2 separate regions of the Homo sapiens genome follow, and region 2 is linked to region 1. Evidence: fine-mapped expression QTL. A gene starts in region 1. The other region holds a variant in brackets. All regions are shown on one strand. Distances are from middle to middle.

Region 1 (4,396 bases):
GTTTTCTCTGGTGCTATGAACTGAATGTTTGTGTACTCCTCCCCCCAAATTCATATGTAGAAATTTTCGGCCCCAGTGCGATGGCATTAGGAGGTGGAACCCTTGGGAGTTTAGGTCAAGAGGATGGAGACCCCAAGCTCTCTTCCTCTTTCCCTGCCACGTGGCCATCTGCAACCTGAAGAGAGCCCTCCCCATGACCTGACCATACTGGCACCTTGATATGGGACTTCCAGCCTCCTGAACTATGAGAAATAAATGCCTGCTATTTATAAGCCACCCAGTCTATAGTCCTTTGTCATAGCAGCCTGAGCTGACTGAGACCGTCAGGTAAGTGGCCTGGGGTCTGGGGTGGTAGCATTCCTATTGTCTCCTTTATTCTGTTGGAATGTTTGACTCCAAGCATAAAGGACATTTTTAGTTCTTTTGTTTTTTTGGGTTTTTTTTTGAGAGGGAGTCTCACTCTGTCACCCACGCTAGGGTGCAATGGTACAATCTCCACTGCAACCTCTGCCTCCTGGGTTCAAGCAATTTTCCTGCCTCAGCCTCCCGAGTAGCCAGGATTACAGGCGCCTGCCACCATGCTCAGCTAATTTTTGAATTTTTTGTAGAGATGGGGTTTCACCAAGTTGGCCAGGCTGGTTTTGAACTCCTGACCTCAGGTGATCCACCCACCTTGGCGTCACAAAGTGCTGGGATTACAGGCGTGAGCCACCATGCCCGGCCATTTTAAGTTTTTTAAAACACTCAAAGCCATGCCTTGGGGAGGCTGCAGTCTGGCTCTGTCCCACCCTTGCCTGCTGCTGGTTGGAAGTGGGACCAGCCCAGCTGCTCCTTGGGTCAGGGTCTACAAGGCCAGCCCTGGAAAGGCAGATCCACAACACAGCCAGTGCAGCACCAGGAAGGGTGCCCTGGGCTGAAGTCTGCATGGGGCAGCAGAGGCAGAGCCTGCCAGACCTGCAGACATTTCTGCAGTTGATTATGTTCTTACTTGTCCCTAAGATGAGCACTTACCTAGGCATAGCTGATGCCCTCTGGTGGGGCCGGGGGGGGGGTGGTGTCCCAAATCTGATGGTGGAGCAGCAGGGGATCCCCTGTGGGTAGAGACCAACAGGCAGGCTCTGTGCCGTGGGCTGGCTGGTGTACCCAGGAGACCTCAGCTCACACCCTCCTGGGAAGGACTGCCGGCCACTTCATAGGTGGAGCACAGAGGTGCTGGCTCCACCCCCTGTGTGTGCGTGGCACTCTGTAGTCACCAGCCTGGCTGTCTGCCTCCTTGTTCCAGGCATGGTCTCAATGGCCTCAGACCCTCCCTCCTGAGCCTGATTAAGAAGCAAAGCACCCTGCAGTAGGGGACACTCTTCTTAGGAGGAGGCGGCAATTCTCACTAATAAGTGCTTTTCTTCTACCACATCATGTACATTAAGTGGTTTTTTTTTTTTGTTTTGCTTTTTTGTTTTTTTGTTTTGTTTTTGTTTTTGTTTTTTTGGATACAGAGTCTTGCTCTGTTGCCCAGGCTGGAGTGCAGCGGTGCAATCTTTGCTCACTGGACCCTCCGTCTCCCGGGTTCAAGCGATTCTCCTGCCTCAGCCTCCTGAGTAGCTGGAACTACAGGTGTGCGCCACCACACCCAGCTAATTTTTGTATATTTAGTAGAGACAGGCAGGGTTTCACCATGTTGGCCAGGCTGGTCTCGAACTCCTGACCTCAAGTGATCTGCCTGCCTCGCCCTCCTAAGTGTATATTTTTCTTTTCTTTTTTTTTTTTTTGAGACGGAGTCTCGCTCTGTCACTAGGCTGGAGTGCAGTGGTGCCATCTCAGCTCACTGCAACCTCTGCCTCCCGGGTTCAAGCGATTCTCCTTTCTCAGCCTCATGAGTAGCTGGGATTACACACGTGCGCCACCAAACCCAGCTAATTTTTGTATTTTTAGTAGAGACGGGGTTTCACCATGTTGCCCAGGATGGTCTAGATCTCTTGACCTTGTGATCCACCCACCTCGGCCTCCCAAAGTGCTGGGATTACAGGCATGAGCCACCGCGCCTGGCCGTGTATATTTTTCTAAATAGACACCTGACCATGCTTAGGTCATCCATCGAAATTCCCTAGCACTTGCTGGCTTCCCTGAATTCAACTGAATTGCGCGTGCCCACTGCTGCTGCATAACCTATGGCGGGCACAGCCATGGGATAAAGTGGGCAGTGTGCACACATTCCCCGCACAGTCTGTGGCCTGGCCAAGCCCCTGGGCATTCGAGGCTCCCGGCAAGGCTTCGTGTCCCGACAGTTTTGGGTAGGGGCACGAGGTGGGTGAGCCCGGATCCCAGCAGCAGGCATGGCTCCCTGGGTTTTCATGTCATCTGTGCCCCCTTCTACCAGGATCCTGCAGCAGCTGAAGGGAGACCCCTCTCCTTTTAAGGGTTAAACCCCCAGTGGCACAGAGCAACTTACCTGCCCTTGCATGGTGAACACTCCCATCTTTATCACATCAGTAATTCTTGCTAAAAGCAGATGTAATTTTGAAGGTGGGTAAAAGTAACTTGAAAAGTTGGTGGGCAGATGGCAGAGAGCCTGCTCATCCTTCTTTCAAACTGTCATCAGCTGCACAGGTCTCAGCTGCCATCTCATACTATTATTATTGCTATTTTGCATGTGTGCACACCTCTTTCTGTGGGTGTGGAGGGAGGGGACTGAGCAAAGCCTCAGGGAGGCCACATACGTTCTCAGCGCCATGCTTGGCTGGTGACTGGTCATGCACCATTGGCAGGGCCTGGAGCACGTGCAAGGAACAGAGTTCCCGGCTCTGCACACTCAACATGTGTGTTTCATACTGTCACCTGGCTGGCTCCTCTTTCTGGGTCTGTGTGAGCAGAACAGAACACACACTGGGGACAGAGCTTGCCCGAGGGGCTGCCCAGGTTATTTCCATCTTGGTGATGATGACACCACCCTGAGCTCATTTCTTCTTCACAGCAATCCCAGGAGATGGGAACCACTGTTATCCCCATTTTCTTGATAGGTAGACTGAGATGTGAGTGAGGGGAACAGATGGGACAAAGCTAGGACCCAAGGACAGGTGAAGGCAAGGAGGGACGATGCTGCTAATAATCAAGGCCATTCATTTGGTCCCACCCAGAAGCCTGGGCAAGTGGAGACAGCTGGCACTACAGAGGCCATGGGGCAGGGGCAGTGGAGGCCAAACCAGGGGGCTTGATCAGCACTCTGTCTGGGAAGCCATTGAGATCCCAGGTTCCTTCCACAGCATGCCTCAGACAAGCCTGGAAGTTTGTTCTTTGGGGAAATTGTAGAAAGGAGGCTCTAGGCTCAGGGGCTGAAGGACAGCAGAAGGCAGGGGTGGGGTTCTGGACTAAAAAGGGGTCGAGGTATAAGAAGAAAGACTTCACCTACACTGAGGAGATCCCCAAGACCCCCTCCCGACTCTACTCCCAGGAAGTTGGCAGCATGACCTACAAGTACCAGGCAGGACATATGTTCCTAGAGAGGAGACCTAAACATGTTTGCAGGTAAGGGTTGCCCAACAAAGAATCTGCTATAGCCACCAGTCTATAACCATCCCCTGCCAGCAAGAAGTCTTCAGTGAGCTCTTCAGGGCTGTGCCCTTGGAGATGAACCAACTGCCCACGGTCACTGAACACAGGAGTGAAGCAGCCAACATGGAGCACAACCAGCAACACATAGGGAAGAGGCACTCAGAGGAAGCAGAGGGAAGGGGCAGAGCAAAGCTCAACATGAAGCCCCTGTCAGTCACATTCTTGGGAGCTGATAGAGGAGATTGCATCCAGGAAACAAGAATGGCATTCTAGGCTGGGTGTGGTGGCTCACACCTGTAATCCCAACACTTTGGGAGGCTGAGGCGGGCAGATCACCAGAGGTCAGGAGTTCGAGACCAGCCTGGCCAACATGGTGAAACCCTGTCTCTACTTAAAATACAAAAATTAGCTGGGCATGGTGGCGCATGCCTGTAGTCCAGCTACTCGGGAGGCTGAGACAGGAGAATCACTTGAACCCAGGAGGTGGAGGTTGCAGTGAGCTGAGATCACGCCACTGCACTCCAAACTGGGCAACAGAGCAAGACCACAGACACACACACACAAAAAAAAGATTGGCATTCTAGGAGAAAGGGATCATCAAAGCACAAGAAAGAGGACATTTAATAAATAAGATAGAAGGTGGAGTCAAGAAAATTGCTAGAAAAAAGACAAAAAGATTGACAATAAGACACCAAAGACAACTAGCATGTCAATCAGATGATTTGGGGTTCCACTAATTAGAGTTACAAAAGGTGAGACCAGATACAAGGGGGAGACATTTTCAAATAAATAATACAAGAAAATTACCAAGTGAAGGATGGGAGCCTCTGAACGGAAAGAGCCTGTTAAG
Region 2 (4,396 bases), 34 kb before region 1:
AAAAACTCTCTGCTTAGGGTCTCACCAGGCTGTAATCAAGTTTCCGTTCATTTATTTGGAGCTCCATGTTCTCTCTAAGCTCATTCAGGTTGCCCAGTTTGTAAGTTGCAAGATTCAGTTCTATCTTGCAGTTCCAAGACTCGGGTCCCCACTTTGTTGCTGGCTGTAGGCCACCCTGGGACTTGTCTCAGCTTCTGGAGACCATGCTTGGTCCTCGCGACATGGACTCTGTGTGCATCTACTCTGGGACTGCTATAAAGAAATACCGGAGGCTGGGTCATTTATAAAGAAAAGGGGTTTAATTGGCTCATGGTACTGCAGGCTGTACAGGAAGCATGATGCTGGCATCTGCTCGGCTTTGGGGAGGCCTCAGGAAACTTACAATCAGGGCAGAAGGTGAAGGGGAAGCAGATACGTCGTCTTACATGGCTGGAGCAGGAGCAAAAGAGGTGAGAGGGGAGGTGCTATCCACTTTTAAACAACTAGATCTGGTGAGGACCCACTATCATGAAGACAGCAACAAAGGGATGGTGTCAAACCATGAGAAACTGCCCCCATGATCCAATCACTTCCCACCAGGCCCCACCTCCAACACTGGGGATTACAATTCCACATGAGATTTGGGTGGGAACACAGATCCAAACCATATCAGACCCACAAGCAGTCTGCAACACGACAGTCTGCTGTCTTCTGGGCCACGTCTCCATGAAGCTTCACCTTCTTTCAAAGGCTCCTCTGGTTGGGCCAGGCCCACCCAGGATAACCTGGATAGTCTCCCTCTTGATTAATTCAATGTCAACTGACTTGTGACAATCACAGGAGTGACATCCTATCATAGTCACTGATTCTGCACACACTAAAGAGGAAGGAATTCTATAGGGAGTTCATACCAGGGGCAGGACTCTTGGGGCCATGCTAGAATCCCGCTTGCCACATATGGGTTTGGAGTCTGAATTTACACCTGTCGAATTGTGGAAATCTCCATGATTAACATCCATTAGGTCCCAGGCAGGAGATATCTTTGCAGTGCATGACAGAGGCAAATAGAAAAATTCTCACAGAAGGCTGGTCGTGGTGTCTCACGCCTGTAATCCCAGCACTTTGGGAGGATGAGGCGGGTGGATCACGACGTCAGGAGATCGAGACCATCCTGGCTAACACGGTGAAACCCTGTCTCAACTAAAAAATACAAAAAAATTAGCCGGGCGTGGTGGCAGGCGCCTGTAGTCCCAGCTACTCAGGAGGCTGAGGCAGGAGAATGGTGTGAACCTGGGAGGTGGAGCTTGCAGTGAGCCGAGATTGTGCCACTGCACTCCAGCCTGGGCGACAGAGCGAAGACTCCAGCTCAAAAAAAAAAAGAAAGAAAAATTCTCACAGGAAAAAAAAATTATATATATATATATATTATATATATATAAATTATATATATTATATATATTATATATATAAAAATTATATATATTATATATATTATATATATTATATATATAAATTATATATATAATATATATTATATATATTATATATATAAATTATATATATAATATATAAATTATATATAATATATATATTATATATATAAATTATATATATAATCACTGAAGATAACATCACAATAAAAAAATTGAACAGACACACGGAAACTCCATTCCCTGCATAAGCAAGTCAGCAGGCAAAATGAATAGGAGCATTGGGATCCATCCCAGGACCTGCAGACCTCTCCTCCTCAACAGGTGTGTGTAATATAGGTTTCCTACCGTGTACTTGGCTGTTGATCTAGATATTGCTTAAAAGGACAGTGAGATTGCATGAAAACCACCACCTACAAAGATGATGAAAATTTTCATTATGAAATTTTGTATTTCATTAAGTTTTAAGATATTTTGTAATGTTTTCCACATGAATGAAACTTTATCATATGTGACCCATTGCACTATTTGATCATATTATGTACAATTTGGGATTAATTTTCAAACCTAAGTATTGCTTTAAGAATTTGAGTAATGAGGCCGGGCACAGTGGCTCACATCTGTAATCCCAGCACTTTGGGAGGCTGAGGCGGGAGGATCACACTTGAGGCCAGGAGTTCGAGAGCAGCCTGGCCAATATGGTGAAACCCTGTTCCTACTAAAAATACAAAAATTAGCCAGCCAGGTGTGGTGGCACACACCTGTAATCCCAGCTACTCAGGAGGCTGGGAGAATCATTTGAACTTGGTAGGCAGAGGTTGCAGTGAACCAGGGTCATGCCACTGCACTCCAGGCTGGGCTGGGCATTTTTTTTTTTTTCTGGAAAAAAAAGAAAAGAAAAGAAAAGAATTCGAGTAATGATTCCAGTTGCTACCACCTCATCAGAGCAAAGTTTCTCTAAATTGAATTTAAATATATTTAAATATATATATAACAACTATTTTGTTGATTCAGGAAAGGTGTAACTTGGCTTTCCTATCATTTGAACATAAATCTATGAAAATCTCATTATCTCAACATAATCAGTGATTTTGCTAAAGCAAAGGCAGGAAAAATAAATTTTACAGAATAAATAACAGTTTATGAAGTATGACTTTATTATTCATGCAAA[C/T]AACACCAACCCATCAACATCACACCCAGACATGAACAATAATTAAATTCAGCCATCTATGATATTTTGCCACGTTTCAATCATATAAAAACTGTAACTTTATACATATTAGTTTGATTTATGACCTTTACTTTTTTTTTTTTTTTTTTTGGTAGAGATGGGGTCTCCTCATGTTGGCCAGACTGGTCTAGAACTCCTGACTTCAAGTGATCCGCCCTCTTCAGCCTCCCAGAGTGGTGGGATTACCTTTCTTTTTTTCTTTTTTTTTTTTTTTTTTTTTTGAGACAGAGTCTCCCTCTGTCCCCCAGGCTGGAGTGCAGTGGCGCAATCTTGGCTCACTGCAAGCTCTGCTTCCCGGGTTCACACCATTCTCCTGCCTCAGCCTCCCGAGTAGCTGGGACTACAGGTGCCCGCCACCACGCCCGGCTAATTTTTTGTATTTTTAGTAGAGGCAGGGTTTCACCGTGTTAGCCAAGATGGTCTCGATTTCCTGACCTCGTGATCCGCCCGCCTCGGCCTCCCAAAGTGCTGGGATTACTGGCGTCAGCCTCTGCGCCTGGCCGAGTGGTGGTATTACTGCAGGTGTGAGCCACCACACCTGACTATGATTTTTACATGTTTAGACATGTGGTCAGAGGGCCCTGGACACTGTCACTCTAAGAGGGTCGCTGGGAAAAAGGCCAAGCCTGGGGATCACAGCAGAGGACACACCTGGAGCAGCTGGGTCTGAGGGACTGGGCTCCCCTCTGAGGTCACGGTGCCCTTGCAGGGAGGGCCAGGCCAGCAGCAAAGACACACATCTCCAGGTTCTGTTGGACCAGGCCTCAATGGCGCCGCCACGTGGCAGCGTGGAGCAATGTCAGGAACCTGCTCTTCCCACACCAAGAAAACTTTGCACCAAGTCCCCAGGGATTTTTTTGGATTGATTGATTGATTTCTTGAGAATTCAAGGCAAGAGGGGACTGCCAGGGGAAGATATGGGGCTTTCTATTTTTAAGGCCAGTGAATACCAGAATGATTAATTTCAAAGATAATTTGCATTCTGAGTTTGTGGAGCGACACACCAAGAAGTAGATTGTTTTGTGCACAGCAGCTGGGAGCAGGTGGCATAGAGGTTAAACCAGGGAACCTGGACCAGACCTGTGCTTATGTGCTGGCTCCATTACTGGTTAGTCGTGTGATGCCAGGCAAGTTCTGTGGTCTCTCCAAGTCTGTCTTCCCCCAAGTCAATGGGAGTCGTGGGCAGCCTCAAAGCCCCAGAGATGCTGTGATTGATTGAGACAAACTTTGCTTGGCTCCTGCACTCAGTACGGGCTCTACCAATGTAGCTCTCTTTCCCTTCTCCTTCTTCTATCCCTAACCTCCCCCTCCTCCTCCTCCCTCGTAGATGGCAATCCTTGAGTGCTTGTTGGGTGAGTTAATGAATTTGGATGCAAGCCACCAAGGGCGATGGACTTGATCGGTTTCTCCAATCATCCTCGAATTGCCTGGATTCCTACCACACTCCGCCTTCCCCTCCTTAGTCAAGTGTGTTGGACTTTTCTGTCTTTGAGTACCCAGCACACTGTTCCCCAGCTGAGGGCCTCCTGTCTCAGTTTACAGAGAAAACAGAGGAATCGGGCACTTGCCTTCCTTCCCCCATCTTGCTGTCAGCCAGCATCCCTTCTCCTCTGCTTCCATGGGGCCAGCCCTGCCTTGTCCCTTCAGCTCACCATGTCTAAGAACTTCACTCCTGCAATTACCCTCCTCTCACAGTTGGGTTACCAAGTCATGTTACATATCTCCACTCTTTCTTTTCTTTTCTTTCTCTTTCTTT

Evidence for each region. PIP is the estimated chance that this variant, and not a neighbour inherited with it, causes the effect. A credible set is the group of variants that fine-mapping cannot tell apart.
Region 2: its variant is the best candidate, but not a certain one, in a credible set for the expression of LINC03034 in thyroid (GTEx, PIP 0.67).

What each region holds. Positions count from the first base shown.
Region 1 is chr15:31,228,261-31,232,656 of GRCh38, forward strand. It overlaps LINC03034 (long intergenic non-protein coding RNA 3034), which reads right to left and starts at 2,602. Exons shown (of 4, transcript NR_171016.1): 1 at 2,447-2,602; 2 at 1,012-1,091.
Region 2 is chr15:31,194,216-31,198,611 of GRCh38, forward strand. No RefSeq gene overlaps it. Among named protein-coding and RNA genes, the nearest start is that of LINC02352, 20 kb to the right of the region's middle. The variant C/T (reference allele first, on the strand shown) is at 2,581.